4 separate regions of the Homo sapiens genome follow, and regions 1, 2 and 4 are each reported to be linked to region 3. The links are microRNA targets in miRTarBase. Many come from high-throughput screens and were not tested one by one. Region 3 holds a microRNA gene; each other region holds the end of a gene's coding sequence.

Region 1 (4,000 bases), not on the chromosome of region 3:
AGAAGAAAAAAAGATACCTTATTGAATAGAACATTTTCATTATAGACAAAGTACAGTACAATGCAGTTTTAAATCTACAAGAAACTATCCATTGCATTTCAATTTAGTTTTAATAGCTACTTCATAAGCAAGCAGTTTAATTCTCGAAAATGTTAATTAGTAATCTGCTTCAATTATGGAGGCAAATGTAGTTATTATTCTATTTAAAAGTGGTTAATAATTTGATAACAAATTATGTAAATGACTCTTTAAAGGAGCAGTGTAACTGTCACCGTGAGGTAAGCTCATGACAAAGTTTCCAACTGGCAATGCTGCAGTTATTTATTTTACTTTCGAGATAGAGTCTCACTCTGTTGCCCAGGCTGGAGTGCAGTGGTGTGATCCCGGCTCACTGCAACCCCGCCTCCTGGGTTCAAGCGATTCTCCTGCCTCAGCCTCCTGAATAGCTGGGATTACAGGTGCACACCCCCATGTCCGGCTAGTTTTTGTAATTTTAGTAGAGATAGGGCTTCACCATGTTGGCCAGGCTGGTCTCAAGACTCCTGACCTCAAGTGATCTGCTCACCTTGGCCTCCCAAAGTGCAGGGATTACAGGTGTGAGCCACCGTGCCTGGCTGATTCTGCAATTATTTGAAAACCTACTTTGTATAGACTTTGTGGCATGAAAATGAGTGGGAAGTAAAGTCCTAAATTAGAGCCTTGACTCCAGGTTAAGTCAAAATCTCATTTACTTAATGCTGGTATCTCAAACCCTGTTCCAGTGAATGAGGACTGTTTTGTTTCTTGAAGCCTTTCTCCTGTTAAGAAAGAACGCTAATGCAATTAGGGTGGAACCATCTGAAATTCCAAGTCTTCCATTATCTCCAAGAGAGGTCCTATATTATGTACTACTGTGGGGCCCAGTCGCCCTCTGGTGGTAGTCTCAGGGATGTCACAGCTGTGGGTTGGTCTTTAGAATCACGGCAACCTATAGAAAGGAGAGTTCCAACTCCTTCGTAGTGACCAAGGTCAACAAACTTTCTGTAAAAGACCAGAGAGTGAATATCTTAGGCTTTGCAGGCCACACAATCTGTCACAACAACTCAACTCAGCTTTGTAGTGTGAAGCAGCCATAGGCAATATGTAAATGAAAGTGGCTGTGGCCAAGAGTGGTGGCTCATGTCTATAATCCCAGTACTTTGGGAGGCCAAGGCAGAAGGATCACTTGAGGCCAGGAGTTAAAGACCAGCACGGGAAACATAGCAAGACCTTGTCTCTACAAAAAATGAAAAACTTAGCCAGGCGTGGTGGTATGCACGCCCAGCTAGTTCTTTTTCTTCAAAAAGACGCTGAAGCAGGAGGATCATTTTAACCCAGGAGTTTGGGGCTGCAGTGAGCTGTTGACTGTGCCACTGTATTCTAGCCTGGACAATAGAGTGAGACCCTGTCCTAAAAAAAAAAAAAAAAAAAGTATGGCTATGTTCCAATAAAACCTTATTGAGGGACACCGGAATTTGAATTTTGTGTAATTTGCACATGTCACAAAATGATGTCATTTTTTGGCTTTTTCTCCTCAACCATTCCAGAAAATAAAAACATTCTTAGCCTGTGGGCTACACAAAAATAAGCAATGGGCTGGATTTAGCCCACAGGCCATAGTTTGGTGGCCCCTGCCTGGGATAAGATATGATTGGTTTCACTGGACTCATAACTTGAAGGAAATGCCATCATGTCTAAAACAATTAACTTCTGCACTGAACTTCCTAGGCACTGGCCCAGTAAAAGCAGGGAAAAGTATCTACTTTTGTTTTTTGAGACGGAGTCTTGCACTGTCACCCAGGCTGGAGTGCAGTGGCACGATCTTGGCTCACTGCAACTTCCGCCTCCTGGGTTCAAGTGATTCTCCTGCCTCAGCCTCCTAGCAGCTGGGATTACAGGCACCCGCCACCACACCCAGCTAGTTCTTTTTGAATTTTTAGTAGAGATGGGGTTTCACCATGTTGGCCAGGCTGGTCTCGAACCCCTGACCTCAAATGTTTCGCCCGCCTTGGCCTCCCAAAGTGCTGGGATTACAGGCGTGAGCCACCACACCCAGCCAAGGCATCTACTTTGTGGTATCTGAGTTGAGGCCAGGCTACGTGGCCTCGGTTAGCATCTTATTTTTCCCGCAGATTATTGGCAATATAAACACACATCTGTAAGCCATGAAAGTTTTTCAAATTCTAGATTAAAAACACCATCAGTAACAAAATTATGAATACTTATTTACAAATAAGACATTTTCCATTAGCATGACACATGACAGTTTTCATGATAAAATCAGCATAGAGGAGTATGTGCAATTTTGCATAAGTAATAAAAACATTCAAACTATCAATGCCCTGATAGCACGAATAAGTTCCACCAGGCATCTCTTTTGACTTTACAGTTTTTTATTTCCTTTTCTTCATATATCCTTGATGTTGCTGAGAAGAAACTGAACTTTGCACAACAGCAGAAAAGTCTAGTTAGTCGCGGGTACAGGCTCTTTCTTTTTTTTTTTTTTTGAGACGGAGTCTCACGCTCTGTCACCCAGGCTGGAGTGCAGTGGCTCGATCTCGGCTCACTGCAACCTCACCTCTCAGGTTCAAGCGATTCTCCTGCCTCAGCCTCCCAAGCAGCTGGGACTACAGGCACACGCCACCACGCCCGGCTAATTTTTGTATTTTTAGTAGAGATGGGGTTTCACTATGTTGGCCAGAATGGTCTCGATCTCCTGACCTCATGATCTGCCCACCTTGGCCTCCCAAAGTGCTGGGATTACAGGCGTGAGCCACCACGCCCGGCCTCAGGCTCTTTCAGAGAGCACAGTGAGTGCTTGCACAAAACTCTGCTTTTGAAGCAATCCACTGACCTGGTAAAGATCAAAGTACAAACTTGCATGTTTATTGATTCGGCAACTCTGCTTATGGAGAAATACATGTACTAGTCACCAGTACATTTTAATATTGCTCTGCACTTAAACAACCACCACCTGTCACTGAGCTACAGAAGTGTTGATTCCATAAATGTTCCCAGTGATACCATGTAAGGTGATACCAGTAAAAAAAATTTCCAAATGGATCTTTTGTTCTGTTACATGGACAAATGTACCATCACTTAAGAAACAGAAATGCAGCAATTTCTCTCCACACAATAGCAAAGATTTTCTTACATGACTCTGTAACTTCTACTTAGTCCATAGAAAAACAGTCCCTTTTCTAAGGGTGAAAAAATACCTCTTCAAGAGACAGGCAAAAATTTGAAAATTACAAGAATGTGCTCTTTGTAGCCTTTCATCCCTCCCACAAATAGGTCAACAGTAAAAAAAGGATGAAGTTTAACATTCTAGCTAGAAACGTACAAATGTCACATGTGGACTTTTGTCATCTTTTCTGATTATCGACTACTTCAATTTCACTTGAGTTGTGCTTTTATTCTTCTTTGGAATGGCAGTTCCAGAAATCATTAAATATTAACAAATGATGATGTCAGAGTTCTAGAAATAAAAATATCCATCTATTGTAGTACTAGTCCAACCTGAAGGGAGGGAAGAAATGGAATAGTAAGAAAAATTAGATTGCAATGTAGTACAATAGATCTGTCTTTCTAAAAGCTGTCTTAAGGCTCAGCTCACACCTGTAATCCCGGCACTTTGGGAGGCCAAGGCAGGCGGATCACCTGAGGTCAGGAGTTTGAGACCAGCCTGGCCAACATGGTCAAACCCCATCTCTACTAAAAATGAAAAAATTAGCCAGGCATGGTGGTGGATGTAATCCCAGCTACTCGGGAGGCTGAGGCAGGAGAATCACTTGAACCTGGGAGGCGGAGGTTGCAGTGAGCTGAGATCATGCCATTGCACTCCAGCCTGGGGGACAGAGCGAGACTTCATCTCAAAAAAATAAATAAATAAATAAATAAAATGAACAAAAATAAAATAAAGCTGTCTTAAGTCTAAGTGAAGCAAGTATGAAATTGTCTAGGTACATTTGTTGAGTTTACA
Region 2 (4,000 bases), not on the chromosome of region 3:
GATGCTGTGTCTGGCCCATGCCACGTCTGCTCTAAGGCTCAAATGAGACACTGATGTTGCTTACAGCTCAGCTTAGCACAGGCTTTTCCATTTCCTGATTTCTCAGGTATCAAAACATGACAAGAAAGGCCATTTTTTTTTTGAGGTATTTCCTGCTGAGTGAAACCTAGGAAATACTGGAAATCTTAGGGACATCTGATCTTGTAGGGATTGTTCCCAACCCTTTCCTGTTTGAGAAAAAAAAAATCATTCTGGTGGGTCCGGTGACAGAGGGCTGGGAGGCGCCCTGCAACAATGAAGCACAGCAGGCCTCTGTCCTCATGGCCTGATTCATTCAATTTAGCATCCTGATGTGGAAGAGTGGGCTTATAACTGATCATGAAAAGCCTGAAGTCTGCTGCTAAGCGACAGATCTGCTGGCCTACACATCACCCAGGGGCACTACCAAATCGCCTAACACAATGACCAGTGTTTGTGAGTAGAATGTGGATGAATGTGGTGCAACAGACAGAACCTTCCTGGTGAGGGCTAAGGCTTGCATGACATGGTGTGACATGGCCGTAGGATGGAGCCATTTTGCAAAAATAATTCTGACCTGCCCGATGCTAAACGAACACTGAAGAAGCAATTGCGTTCCTGTCTCCAAGATCCTTTCAATATTGTACAAGAGACAAGAACCAAAACCAATGAACAGTACAAGTACTGCCTGTACAAATAGAAATGAGTCACAGAACACTGGCTGATGAGGTTGGGCTACGGATAGAGTACCATCCTTTCTGCCTCCTAAGCCTTTCTCTCACGGGTCCCTGCTCAGGTCCTATTATAGCGGGCTTTGCAGTAGCTTCTTCCTGTCCTCATCAGCCAGCCTAGTCCAGGCCATGGAAACACTTCCAAATGCAATTTTCTAATGAGTGCCCCTAAACACTTTCAGTGGCCCCAAGGCCTACAGAACTTGCAGAAAGCCCAAACGCCCCAGGCATCTACCTTGCCCTCCAGCCTTACTGCTCCTCTCCGGGCCTCATTCTCCGGAGTGCTTAGCTTCACTGTGTTTTTATTATTACTTTTTATTATACTTTAAGTTCTAGGGTACATGTGCACAACGTGCAGGTTTGTTACTTATGTATACATGTGCCGTGTTGGTGTGCTGCACCCATTAACTCGTCATTTACATTAGGTATATCTCCTAATGCTATCCCTCCCCCACGACAGGCCCTGGTGTGTGATGTTCCCTGCCCTGTGTCCAAGTGTTCTCATTGTTCAATTCCCACCTATGAGTGAGAACACGCCCTCTGTGTTTTTTCAACCCTCTTTAGTACTGTTCACTGTCTTCCCTCTTCCCCAAATCTCTTTCAACTAGGCGCAGGGGTCATAACCTGTAGGCTACCTTTTTAGAAGCGCACTCCGTTGGTTCTATCAGGACACGCAGTATGGCCTAACAGCTGGGAGCACAGCATCTGGAGCCATAGACACAGGGTACGATTCTGACTTGGCCACCTTAGCTATTTTATTTAAGCTGTGTTTTGGTTTATCTATGAAAAAGACAGTAGTCAGACCTGCATTCTCGATTGCTGAGATGATGTTTATTAGAACACTTCCTGGCATGCAGTGAGCATGCCATCACCACCAGCTGCTCACAACACTTACCATGGTGATCGATGCTCTTCGCTGGTGTCTCATTTGCCGACTTGAAGCTCTCTGAGGTTGGGACTGTCTTTGATGACCTGTGAAAGCTCAGGGCTAGTGGAGAGTCAGTGCTCACTACTGTGCCTGAGTGAACAGCTGAGAACCTTCTTGGAGGAGGTTCACATAAAAGCTCAGATGACAGAGGGAAAAGCACTCCAGGTAGTGATAATGCTCTCGTCCTAAGGACATGAGGAACCTGCTTGGGGGATGGATGACCCTCATGGGGAACAAGGAGGAAAAAGAGGCTAGCAAAGCCAGGGAGATGAGAGACACCTGAGATGGTCTCTCCAGGGCTGTGTGGAGAATCAGCAGCTAGGACTCTGGACGAAACAGTGTCAGGTAGGGAGGACGCCTGGTGACAGGCAGCCTAGGCAAAAAAGACAGTCATTTTTTTATTGGCTTTAGCAGCTGCTGTCCCAAACCCTCTCCCCTCAATAATAAAAGGCAATTTTATGATCACAAAGAGGCCACATTTTTTTTAATTGACAACTCAATCTCTACATACATACAGTGTTGCACGAATTATAAGTGGATCAACAATTATATTATTGATACAAACTCATGAGCATTTACATAAAACTACCGCTCTAGGTTTTGGTGTGTTTTGTGTCAGCTACTTTAGTGAATAAACGAAACATAAAGGAACTCAGCTACTTGAATTCATGAGAATCAGCTTTCAAAAAAAGCATATATATCATCTCATAGAATACTTATGTCAAACCCAGGAAAATCAGTAACTAAGTGACAAAAGGAACACTTTTAAAGAAAAGTTGGTGATAAATATGTTAGGCTAAAATACTAAGAACTTTAGCAACTGGACCGAGGAACCAGAAAATGTATGCACACTGGGAATTTTAACAAAAGATTACACATTCTCCTGTACAGTGAGGACCACATTCCAAAAGCATAATTCTGGGTTGCTACAATGTCATCTCTGCTACAAACCATTGTTTCAAAGGTGAAAGAAACAAGATGGTAATTGACATAAAAAGGTTTTAAAATTCTTCCCACTCAAAATAAAATAAAAATAATATAATCTCTATCAAATTATAAAGAAATTCTATCAAAATGTTGACCACATAAAGAAGTCAGACCATTTGCCTTCGCTGACTGCCTCAGAGGGCAGAGCATGTGTCACCTACAAGGGGAGAGGGGGGTAGAGTCCCTACTCTCCCCCGGCCTGTGGTGTCAGGGTGGACAGGAGCCCTTTGGCTTCCCTGGGGTTTTGCTTCCTCACATAGGGAATTGATGGAGGTGGGCTAGATGGCTTTAAGAGACTTCTCAACTAAAAGAATCAAAGTCAGCTTGAGAGCCCATCTCTGAACAGACATATAGGGTGGCAAAAGAAATGGATTAAAAAAAGGCGGATGACGTCTTTCTCACCTTTTGATACCATCACTCAGAACTAATCTGTACTATAGTTGAAGAAAATCTTTGCCTGGTACTATTAAAGAGTATGCAGTGAGGCAGCTGACAATGAAATTTTTCATAAAAATGTATAAAAAGGCTATGTTAAGTTTGGGTGGAAAAAACAATGCACCACCATATTACTACCAGCAGTCACGATGTCCTGTCTCAGATTTTAGGAGTCACCGATCTGGTTGGGAGAAATGCTGAGGGATGATCAAGCCATCAATAGCGATCTAAGGAGTGCACACAGTTCAGGAAATGGATAAACAGGTGCCCAGGAAGGCAACTTTAATGAAACTGGTTCTAAAACAAAGGATACAAGAGACCTAAATGATCCAAAAAGAGTGATGGCTTCTCATTTTCTGTCCCCTATAGAGAATATAAATATCATTTCTTCTGGAATCCAACACACTGGATTCATTTTCAAGATGTATCACTTTATTTTCCAGCACGTGACAGTCACATGATTTCTGCAGTGAGCCCCAAAGCTTCCACGAGCTTTCCTGGAACCTACGGCCAGAAGAGTCCTGAGATTTCAAATATTAAAGCTTTCTCCACAGCCACAAGTCCCTTTGATGTTTGGGTTATTGAACACAAACTCACTGGATAATTTGTCTTCAACATAGTCCATTTCTGTTCCTAAAAGTGTTAGCTGTGCTTTCTTTTCGATGAATACTCTGACTCCTTGGAGAAAAGAAAACATGTGTCATGGAAAGCCTGCAGCCTTATGGAACTTGCTGATTCAAAGCACAAGTGAACTTGAAATAGTGACTATCAATGAAAGTCAAACAAGAAGCCTTGAACATTTTAAATTATTTCCTTAAGGAATTAAGCATTCAGTTTCCTGTCTGCCCCTTCTTTCCCACACATGAATTTATGTCACAATCACATTAGGGGAGAATTTTAT
Region 3 (4,527 bases):
TTACCTTCCCAGTCCACAAAATGGGTATATCCTGCTCACAGCGTGATGAATGTAGCGTTATCATCAGTAATGTAATTATTAACACCTGTGCTCCCAACTCACTCTCCTTCCCAAGTCCTAGGCGTTCTCCTCCTTAGAATGATGATCCACAAGGCAGGGGACCGGCCACCTCCCTCGGAAGGGCCTGGACACCTGGGGTGGAGGTGGCGGATAAAGAGAAGCCGATCAGGCCCCCCCACTCCACAGCCTGAATGGGAGGATCTGCTGGACGTGGCGGATGAGCTGCGAGAGAGGGCGCCCCACTCCAGCTCCAGACAGAGGGGTGGGAACGTGACCCCGACCCGGGGCGGGTGAGAGGGCGGGCTCTGGGGAAAGGGCTCTAGAAGGTGCCGGGAGGCGGGAGGGGGGCTTCGGGAGGGCGAGTTAGCCGGGATCGGGCTTGAGGGGCCCTACGAAATTCGGTTTGGGGGCGTGCCCGGTCGGGGCGGACCTTAGTGGGGGGTTGGGCTTCGTGGGGGCAGGACGCAGTCCCGGGGCGTCTATAGAGCAGGCTTTTGTGGAGGGCTCTAAGGGGGCGGGCCCTAAGGGAGCTGGGCTCTTTGAGGACTGGCTTAGGGGTTTGGCGGTGGGCTCCGTGGGAGTCTATATGGGCGGGTTTTAGAGGGAGTGTGTTCTGGGGAACAGGTCAAAAGCGACGGGGCTCTAAGGGGCAGGGCCTGGGCTGGGGCCTTGGCTGGTGGCTCCAGACTGTGGGTGGGGCTCTCGGGGGCGGGGCTCTCGGGGGCGCGTCCTCGGGGGCTCGGCCGGGTTCCGTTGCCACCACCGTGAGGGGTGTGGTGGGGGGGTGGTTCACGCAGCTCGGCACACTTGGGGGTCCCTCATCTACCTTGGGGTTATGCCAGGCGGTTATTTTGGGCCTCAGTATTCCCCTCGGTGAAATGCCAGGGGCCAGGAAATTACTTATTTTTTTGCGACGACGGGGTCTCGTCCTGTGACCCAGGCTGGAATACAGTGGCGCGATCACGGCTCACTGCAGCCTCGAGCCTCGAACTCTTGGGGTCCAAGCGATCCTCCCATCTCAGCCTCCTAAGTAGCTAAGACTACAGGCTCACTACACCACACCCAGCTAATTTTTTTGTAGGGACAGGTATCTCGCTATGTTGCTCAGGTTGGTCTCCATCTCCTGGGCTCAAAAGATCCTCCCGCCTCAGCCTCCCAAAATACTGAATTACAGGCCTGAGCCGCAGCACCCGGCCATGCCGGGTGCACCTTCCTAGGCCGTCCGCAGACCCAGGTCAGGGGCGAAGGCGCGCTCGCCCATCCCTGGTCGTCACTGCTTGGCTTGCGGGGGGTGGGAGATAGGGGTGCGTACCTGTAGGCCTGGGGGCACCCGGGGCGGGGGGGTGGTCGCCGAACTCTGTGCGATCACTGGAGGAAGGGACTGGGGGTCATTTGAGGGATGAGGAAATGGAGAGGGGGCGCCGCAGCCGGTTTTGAGGCCCAAGGGGCAGCCCCCACGTGGCTGCGCGGACTCCCTCCGGAAGTGCCCGAGTTCAGATGCTGTGTGACCGCGCACGCGGGGCGAGCGGCGCCCTCTCTGAACCTCCTGCCTCTCCCCTGTCTAGTGGGGCCCCAGTGCACTTGTAAAGTGGAGAGACCTGACGACCCCCCACCCCCAAGCGCTCCACTCACGCTGTTGTGATTCCTAAACCATCGTGCCCGGAACTCAGTGAAGCTCCCAGAACGTATTACATTGTATTAAAATGGCTTGTTTATCTCCACGTTGCATCAATGCCCTCGGGGCCAGGATCCTCCGTTGCCAGACTTCCCGGGAACACTTGGAATGCCTCCTCCACCTCGGACTAGCAGTGGCCTTTGGCCTCAGTCTCCCCAGTTGACAAAGGGGGGTAATCTGCACCTCCAGGATCACTTTGTGAATTACTTAAGGAGCGGGCTTGAGGCCAGCACTCCCCTGCACTGCTACATCTCCATCCCCATAGCAAAGGCTACATTTTATTTACTAGCATTTATATTTGCCTTGTGTTTTTCCCAGATCTAGGTGCAAACAGCACCTGAAAAGCGTTTGTTTATTTCATGAGAGAAAAGGGGTTCCTTACTCTCTCCTCCTCTCCCTCTTCATGCTCTCTGGTTCCCTGCCACCTACCCCACCCCCGACTCCAGGTCCCGGAAAATTTGCCAAGGGTTTGGGGGAACATTCAACCTGTCGGTGAGTTTGGGCAGCTCAGGCAAACCATCGACCGTTGAGTGGACCCTGAGGCCTGGAATTGCCATCCTCCTGCCGGTGACTCTGACCTTCCAGATCTAGGGGGGCCTGGGGAGCCCCCAATCCAGCCTGGGCACGTCCCCTCCCCTAGGCCACAGCCGAGGTCACAATCAACATTCATTGTTGTCGGTGGGTTGTGAGGACTGAGGCCAGACCCACCGGGGGATGAATGTCACTGTGGCTGGGCCAGACACGGCTTAAGGGGAATGGGGACTGGGGACAGGACCCCCCACCGCCACAGTCACTCAGCCTGTTTTTTGCCCTGACCCCAACCACTCCTCTTTGGAGAGGAGAGCTGGTGTCTGGAATCTGGATGGGCTCTGGCTGGATTTGGGACTAAATATTAGAGGGTTGGGGGTAAACAGGCTGGGGCAGGGCAGCTAAAATCCCCTTTTTTTTTTTTTTTTAAGACAGAGTCTCACTCTGTTGCCTAGGCTGGAGTGCAGTGGCCCAATCTCAGCTCACTGCAACCTCTGCCTCCAGGGTTTGAGTGATTCTCTGGCCTCAGCCTCCCAAGTAGCTGGGATTACAGGCATCTGCCACCACAGTGGGCTAATTTTTGTATTTTTAGTAGAGACGAGATTTCACTGTGTTGGCCAGGCTGGTCTCAAACTCCTGACCTCAAGTAATCCTCCCCCCTCGGCCTCCCAAAGTGCTGGGATTACAGGCATGAGCCACTTTGCCTGGCCTAAAACCCCTTTCTGAAATGTGGGTGGTAAGTTCTGCTCCGTGGAGTGCTCCATAGTTTTGTTTTTTAAATTAGAGACAGGATCTCGCTCTTGTCACCCAGGCTGGAGTGCAATGGTGTGACCTTAGCTCACTGCAGCCTCTAATAACTGGAGTCAAGCGTTGATCCTCCCGCCTCAGCCTCCCCAGTAGCCGGAACCACGGGCACGCACCACCACACCTAGCTTATTTCGAAAAAGTGTTTTTGTAGGAACAGGGTCTCAAAACGTTGCCCAGGCTGGTCTCCAACTCCTAGGTTCAAGCAATCCTCCTCGGCCTCTCAAAATGAGCCACAGTGCCTGGCCAATAAAAGTTTCTTAAATGAATGGATGGGTGGATGAGCTGTGTAAGCGGCACAGCGTCTCTCCTCTGTGTCCAAGTCCTGAGCACACCCTCCCCTCCTGGGACTGAGCTGAGATCTCATCTCGGGGAGGACACTGAAGACCTGTAGGTACTAGGGGTCCCCTCCTAACAGCCCAACTTGCTATCCCCCACCTCCCAACTCCAGAGGGTTCTTTCTCACCCCTCTGCAGCCCCCGCCAGGAAAGGGCTCCCTCCCCAGCACCTAGCCTCAGGGGGCCCCAGTAACTAGAAGAAGGAGGCAGATGTGGTGCTTTTTGTTGTTGTTGTTTTGAGACAGAGTCTTACTCTGTTTCCCAGGCTGGAGTGCAGTGGCTTGATCTTGGCTCACCGCAACCTCTGCCTCCTGGGTTCAAGCAATTCTTCTGCCTCAGCCTCCTGAGTAGCTGGGATCACAGGCACCCGCCACCATGCCCAGCTAATTTTGTGTGTGTGTGTGTGTGTGTGTGTATTTTTAGTAGAGACAGGGTTTCACCATGTTAGCCAGGCTGGTCTCGAACTCTTGACCTCAGGTGATCCGCCTGTCTTGGCCTCCCAAACTGTTGGGATGACAGGCATGAGCCACCACTCCCTGGCCTGGTGCATGTCTTTATAAATAACTGGATGGGCAGGTGGCTTCACACCTCAGTTTGCTCATCCATTCAATGGGGGTTCCACTAAGACAACCGATGTGAAAACTCTTGGAGGGAGACCAGAGCTGGGGGCCGGGGGGCATGATCCTTCCCCCCTACCCCCGCAACCAGCCCATGAGCCTGGGACTACCACACTCCTTTCAGAGACAGCTGGAGCATCAGCAACCTCCCGCCTGGACACACACACACACAAAGAACCCAGGGGCACCTGGCCACTCCCCCGCCCAGGGGAAGGAAGAAAAAGTTATAAAGAAGTTACTAAGTTAACTTCTTTAAGTTACTGGTAACTGCTAGTCTTTGGGGGTGGGGTTTCCAACCCATTCTCCCCATCCTCCAGTGGGGCTGGAGGGCTAAGGACTCCTACAAGGAGGGGAGGCAGGGTAGCCCCCCAATTCCCTGGAGGTGTGTACGGGGGGCTGTGGTGCACCTCGCAGGATGCCCCCCCACACACCCTGTGTCCTGTAGTCCCCCGGCACAGCCAGAGGCCATACAGCCCTTTAGGAGGAGTATTAGTGGGGCACCAGG
Region 4 (4,000 bases), not on the chromosome of region 3:
TCAGCCACAACCCAGATGGAACATGATGCTTGTACCCTACAAAGTGCGTGAGGAGCTAAACGGACGATGTACCTGACAGCACTTTGAAACTATAAAGCACTATGCAAGCATATTCTACCATTTCTTTCAAACACTTGAATGCATTTTTACCATTTCTGATTGTTGCACAGGTAAAACAGATTTTCCTTTATTTATTGCAGAATTTCTGCTAAATTATAAACGCAATATATGCTAGAAAATTGTGACCATACTTCTTTGACCAAGATCCATTCATTTTGTGCACAAGAAAAATGTTTTGACCCCAGAAGTGGTTTGGGCTCAGGGATTGGGATTTTTCACACTGAAAACCAATGGTGCATTGTAGAATAGATGAAGGGAAACAGGGAAACTTTCCCTGTTTTGGCATTTCACTGATAATTTCAAAATCTTTGAGTTGCTCCTTCACAGATCAGCTCCCTACACACTTTACACTCTCGTTGTGTAAGTGCATCCTGGCTTCAACACTTGACCAGTATTGACATACTATTACTTGCCATTGCTTCCCAATAGAAACAGCATTGATGTAATTTTTTTTAGCCACACTATCATCTATATATGAAGCCATTATTGAATCTCCCAGATGGAAAAAGCTGTTCTCTTCTCTCTTCATTCCTTGATTGTAGAACTTACCAAATTTTATTAAAAACACTTTTTTGAACCTTGGAGTCTACTCTACTACACTGTGAGCTGAGCTTTTCAAAGGCAGATTTAGACTCTTGTAGCTCCATCGTCAAACAAACATCAAACTGGCACAGAGGGAATGCCAATGATGTGCTTGTTCTCTCATCTAAGAGATGTTCTGCATACATATATGATGTATTAAGAGTGTCTTCTATAGTATAAAGAGCATCACTTAAAATAAGACCAGAAAGCCTAGTTATCTGGGTTCACAGTCCAGAAGAAAATATTTATGGATATTTCTAATTGTAGAGTACATGAAAGTCTAATTTATTCTGTGGAAATGTTATTTAATATTTTATATAGTTATTACTGGCTGTTTTGTTTTACTAAGAAAGAATAATAGATAAGTTAGCATGGTGTTCTGATATGATAAGTACATCTTTGATAATTCCCAATCTGAGAACAGTATCAACTAGATGATTATACTAATTAAGAATGTCTACATACATTAAAGTGTACTGTTATTTGGGAAAAAGTTGGATGCCTTAATAAAGAAATATATTTGTTAGAAATAATTAAAGAGATACATTTTATTTCAAATATCTTTTACCTAATAATATGAAATACCATAACTAAATGTCTCAAACCAAAATGAAGGATAACATGGTCTTTGAATGTATTTTTGAAAGAAATGCAACCTTTATCTGCTGCTTGGAGAATGCCAGCCCTGAAACATCTTGTATACCATCAAATATGTGACTTAAAAAAAAGTGTGTTATACTACTTTTCCTTATAATGAAAAGAATACAAACAAGTGAAAAGTTTGCAAAATTAAATATATACTTGTATTCATGATCAATAAGTACAAACTAACATTTCCAGTTAAAAGTTTTTCTTTTTTTCTCTTCCAATTATAGAATACAGAGAGCTCTTCCTTTCTTATTTCCAGATTTCTATAACCCTTTTTCAGAACATTTCTTCACACTGCAGTACGTGCCTTTAGTGCAGGAGTGTAACATAAGTGGTATTCCTCTTGAGGGTCCCAGTAGTAAACATAGCTTAACTCACAGGAGAGCAATCAGTTCTTACAAAACACCTATGAAAACTATGCATATGACCTCTATAAAATGTAAGATTGCCAACATCCCATAATAGGAATTCCATGGCTGCTTATAAATATAGATCTCAAAGAAATGTTTGGGCAATGCCTGTAAACCCATAGGCTGGCAAACCATATGTCAATCCAATGCTTTTATGACCCCCAATTTAACTTCACTCTATTGAAAATCTGATTAGTCAAGAAATAAACAAAGATGTGGAGTAATCCCAAAAGCAATTAAAATGAAGAATACCTTCTCATAAAATTAAGCAGAAGTAAGACTAGTGATGTCATGCAGTTTTGGAGATGCCATAGAAAAACTGTCTCTTAATATTAATAAGAAAATTATGCATCAGTGAAAATGCAGGCTTAGAAATATAGTTCTGAGTTTCAATTTGTGGTGTCTTCACTGATGAGGGAAAATGGAATTCTTACTACTGATCTCTTCAGTGTTGCTGATGGCTCCTTAACTGAGCTTAGTGTTTAATGATGCTGTACAAATAAAAAGCAGTGGGGGAAATACGAAATATCTGTATTAAATGCCATCCTGTAAAGTATTTGATGGATGGAAGAGAGTCTAATGCATTTTAAATAAATGCATATCATACTATCACATATAGTGAATCTTAAAAAATTATTACTTAGATGCACAGTCCTTGTAGTGGTAGACACGGCACTGTGAAGGAAGTTTGATTTAGAAGCTATTTTCTATTATACTTCTCAAGTGATGGAGTTGCTGTTAGTCATATTGTAATGTCCCTTCACCTTTGGTACATTCAGTGCAAAATATTTGGGGAATTTTTTTTACCTTTATAAAAATAAAAGGCCCTTTTGTTTCCTTGAGAGTGCTTAAAAGGATACATATTAGCATGATGCCCGAGTATGCATGGAACATGAAAATGGAATGAGTGATACATACAGCATGATAGGTAGGTTCTTATATACATCTTAAAGAACATAAACATAATGAACCTACAAAAAATAAACAGAACTCACTGTGTACTTTTTCCTGATATGCTGTGATTAATTGCTAGTTATTTTAAAATTGTTTTCATGCATTATAAAGCATAAAATCTGTCATTAGTAATTCACTGAATAATGGTTTGTCTTTAGCCATAATTACACACATACCACTTGCATATACATTGTCACAGACCATCTTATTGCAAATCTGTAAAGGTACCTCATATTGACTTGGTTTCATTTTCACTCATGTCCCATGAAAGCGGAAACCTATGGTGCACACCATGCAGGCACTCATAAGCAAGAAATGAATATTCTGTTATAACTTAGGGCTTAAATGAATGTACTTTCAGGAAATATATTTACTTTTATTATATTATTTAACTTGCTCTAATTTGGAGATTGGGCCAAATGCTGCCAGTTTGGCTTGAACCACGTTCAAGGGTAAGTTTCAAGATTCTCCTGAGTCCCTAAAAATTACCGTGGAGCTGATCATGTATGGGTTCATCTTTGTCTTGGAACATAACAAATGGAAAAAGTTTGGCAGTCAAGAACTGTTGATTGAAAGACGGTTGGGTTGTTCCCTGGGCATCAAGCTCACCCAAATCCTTCCAAGAGGACTCATCTCCAGTCCCCAAATGTGACAGAGCACTTGTTCCTGGAAAACAACAGCACATAGCTTTATCCTAAAGGAAGCATCCTCTTGAAACTTCCAATGTTCAATCATTCTTCTAGAAGGCAGCTTCTGAACCTGCCTGTCCACAGAGATGGGCATTCAGCTTCCAGGTCACTCAAGTCCAAAAGTACTGGTTTCTTCAACTGCTGTCAACAGTTTTTCATAAAGCATGGAAAAGGATGGGTAGGGAGGCAGATCCAGACGGTTAAAACATGTATGCGCTCTGAAAACACAAGAAACAGCACATAGTTTAGAACAGGCCGAGTGAAATGAAAATGTGTGTGGTGTGTGTGTGTGTGTGTGTCTGTGTGTGTATGACTGTCTTTCACATTCAAATTTATTTGTTGCCAATTTTCACACTCCTTTTGAAAAATCTTTGAAAACATTTTGACCTTAAAAATTCAGAACTGAATTTCTCTAAGGAAAAGAGGATATTTAAAAAAATATTTTATTTACATTTCACCACCATTTAAAAGCTATATTACATATAAATGACCATTTATTGAGTGGTCTAAGGATTACAAAGACAAGTTTGGTTTTTGTTTCTCTTTTGATGCTAGATTTTTTTTTTAATACACGGACATAAGGCCTTGCAAAGTAGT

What was found. Region 3 holds the annotated microRNA hsa-miR-181c-5p (AACAUUCAACCUGUCGGUGAGU, at 2,212-2,233, shown strand). A microRNA usually pairs through its seed, bases 2 to 8, with sites in the 3' UTR of a target mRNA and lowers its output. Matches are read on the target gene's strand: a 7mer-m8 pairs with bases 2 to 8, a 7mer-A1 pairs with bases 2 to 7 and ends in A, and an 8mer does both.
Region 1: miRTarBase lists NMT2 as a target of hsa-miR-181c-5p. Seed matches in the 3' UTR shown: 7mer-m8 at 2,341-2,347.
Region 2: miRTarBase lists ISCA1 as a target of hsa-miR-181c-5p. The part of its 3' UTR that is shown has no 7-base or 8-base seed match.
Region 4: the mRNA of HECW2 is a reported target of hsa-miR-181c-5p. Seed matches in the 3' UTR shown: 8mer at 2,531-2,538.

The regions. Positions count from the first base shown.
Region 1 is chr10:15,105,679-15,109,678 of GRCh38, forward strand. It overlaps NMT2 (N-myristoyltransferase 2), which reads right to left. Exons shown (of 12, transcript NM_004808.3): 12 at 92-3,537. The coding sequence ends at 3,517. Among named protein-coding and RNA genes, the nearest start is that of RPP38, 10 kb to the left of the region's middle.
Region 2 is chr9:86,262,415-86,266,414 of GRCh38, forward strand. It overlaps ISCA1 (iron-sulfur cluster assembly 1), which reads right to left. Exons shown (of 4, transcript NM_030940.4): 4 at 2,132-3,777. The coding sequence ends at 3,629. Among named protein-coding and RNA genes, the nearest start is that of C9orf153, 4.8 kb to the left of the region's middle.
Region 3 is chr19:13,872,514-13,877,040 of GRCh38, forward strand. It overlaps MIR181C (microRNA 181c), which reads left to right and starts at 2,186; the gene lies at 2,186-2,295. It overlaps MIR181D (microRNA 181d), which reads left to right and starts at 2,362; the gene lies at 2,362-2,498. It also overlaps a transcript of NANOS3 not described here. RefSeq lists a silencer at 322-461.
Region 4 is chr2:196,197,768-196,201,767 of GRCh38, forward strand. HECW2 (HECT, C2 and WW domain containing E3 ubiquitin protein ligase 2) reads right to left here. Exons shown (of 29, transcript NM_001348768.2): 29 at 1-3,621. The coding sequence ends at 3,510. Among named protein-coding and RNA genes, the nearest start is that of STK17B, 28 kb to the left of the region's middle.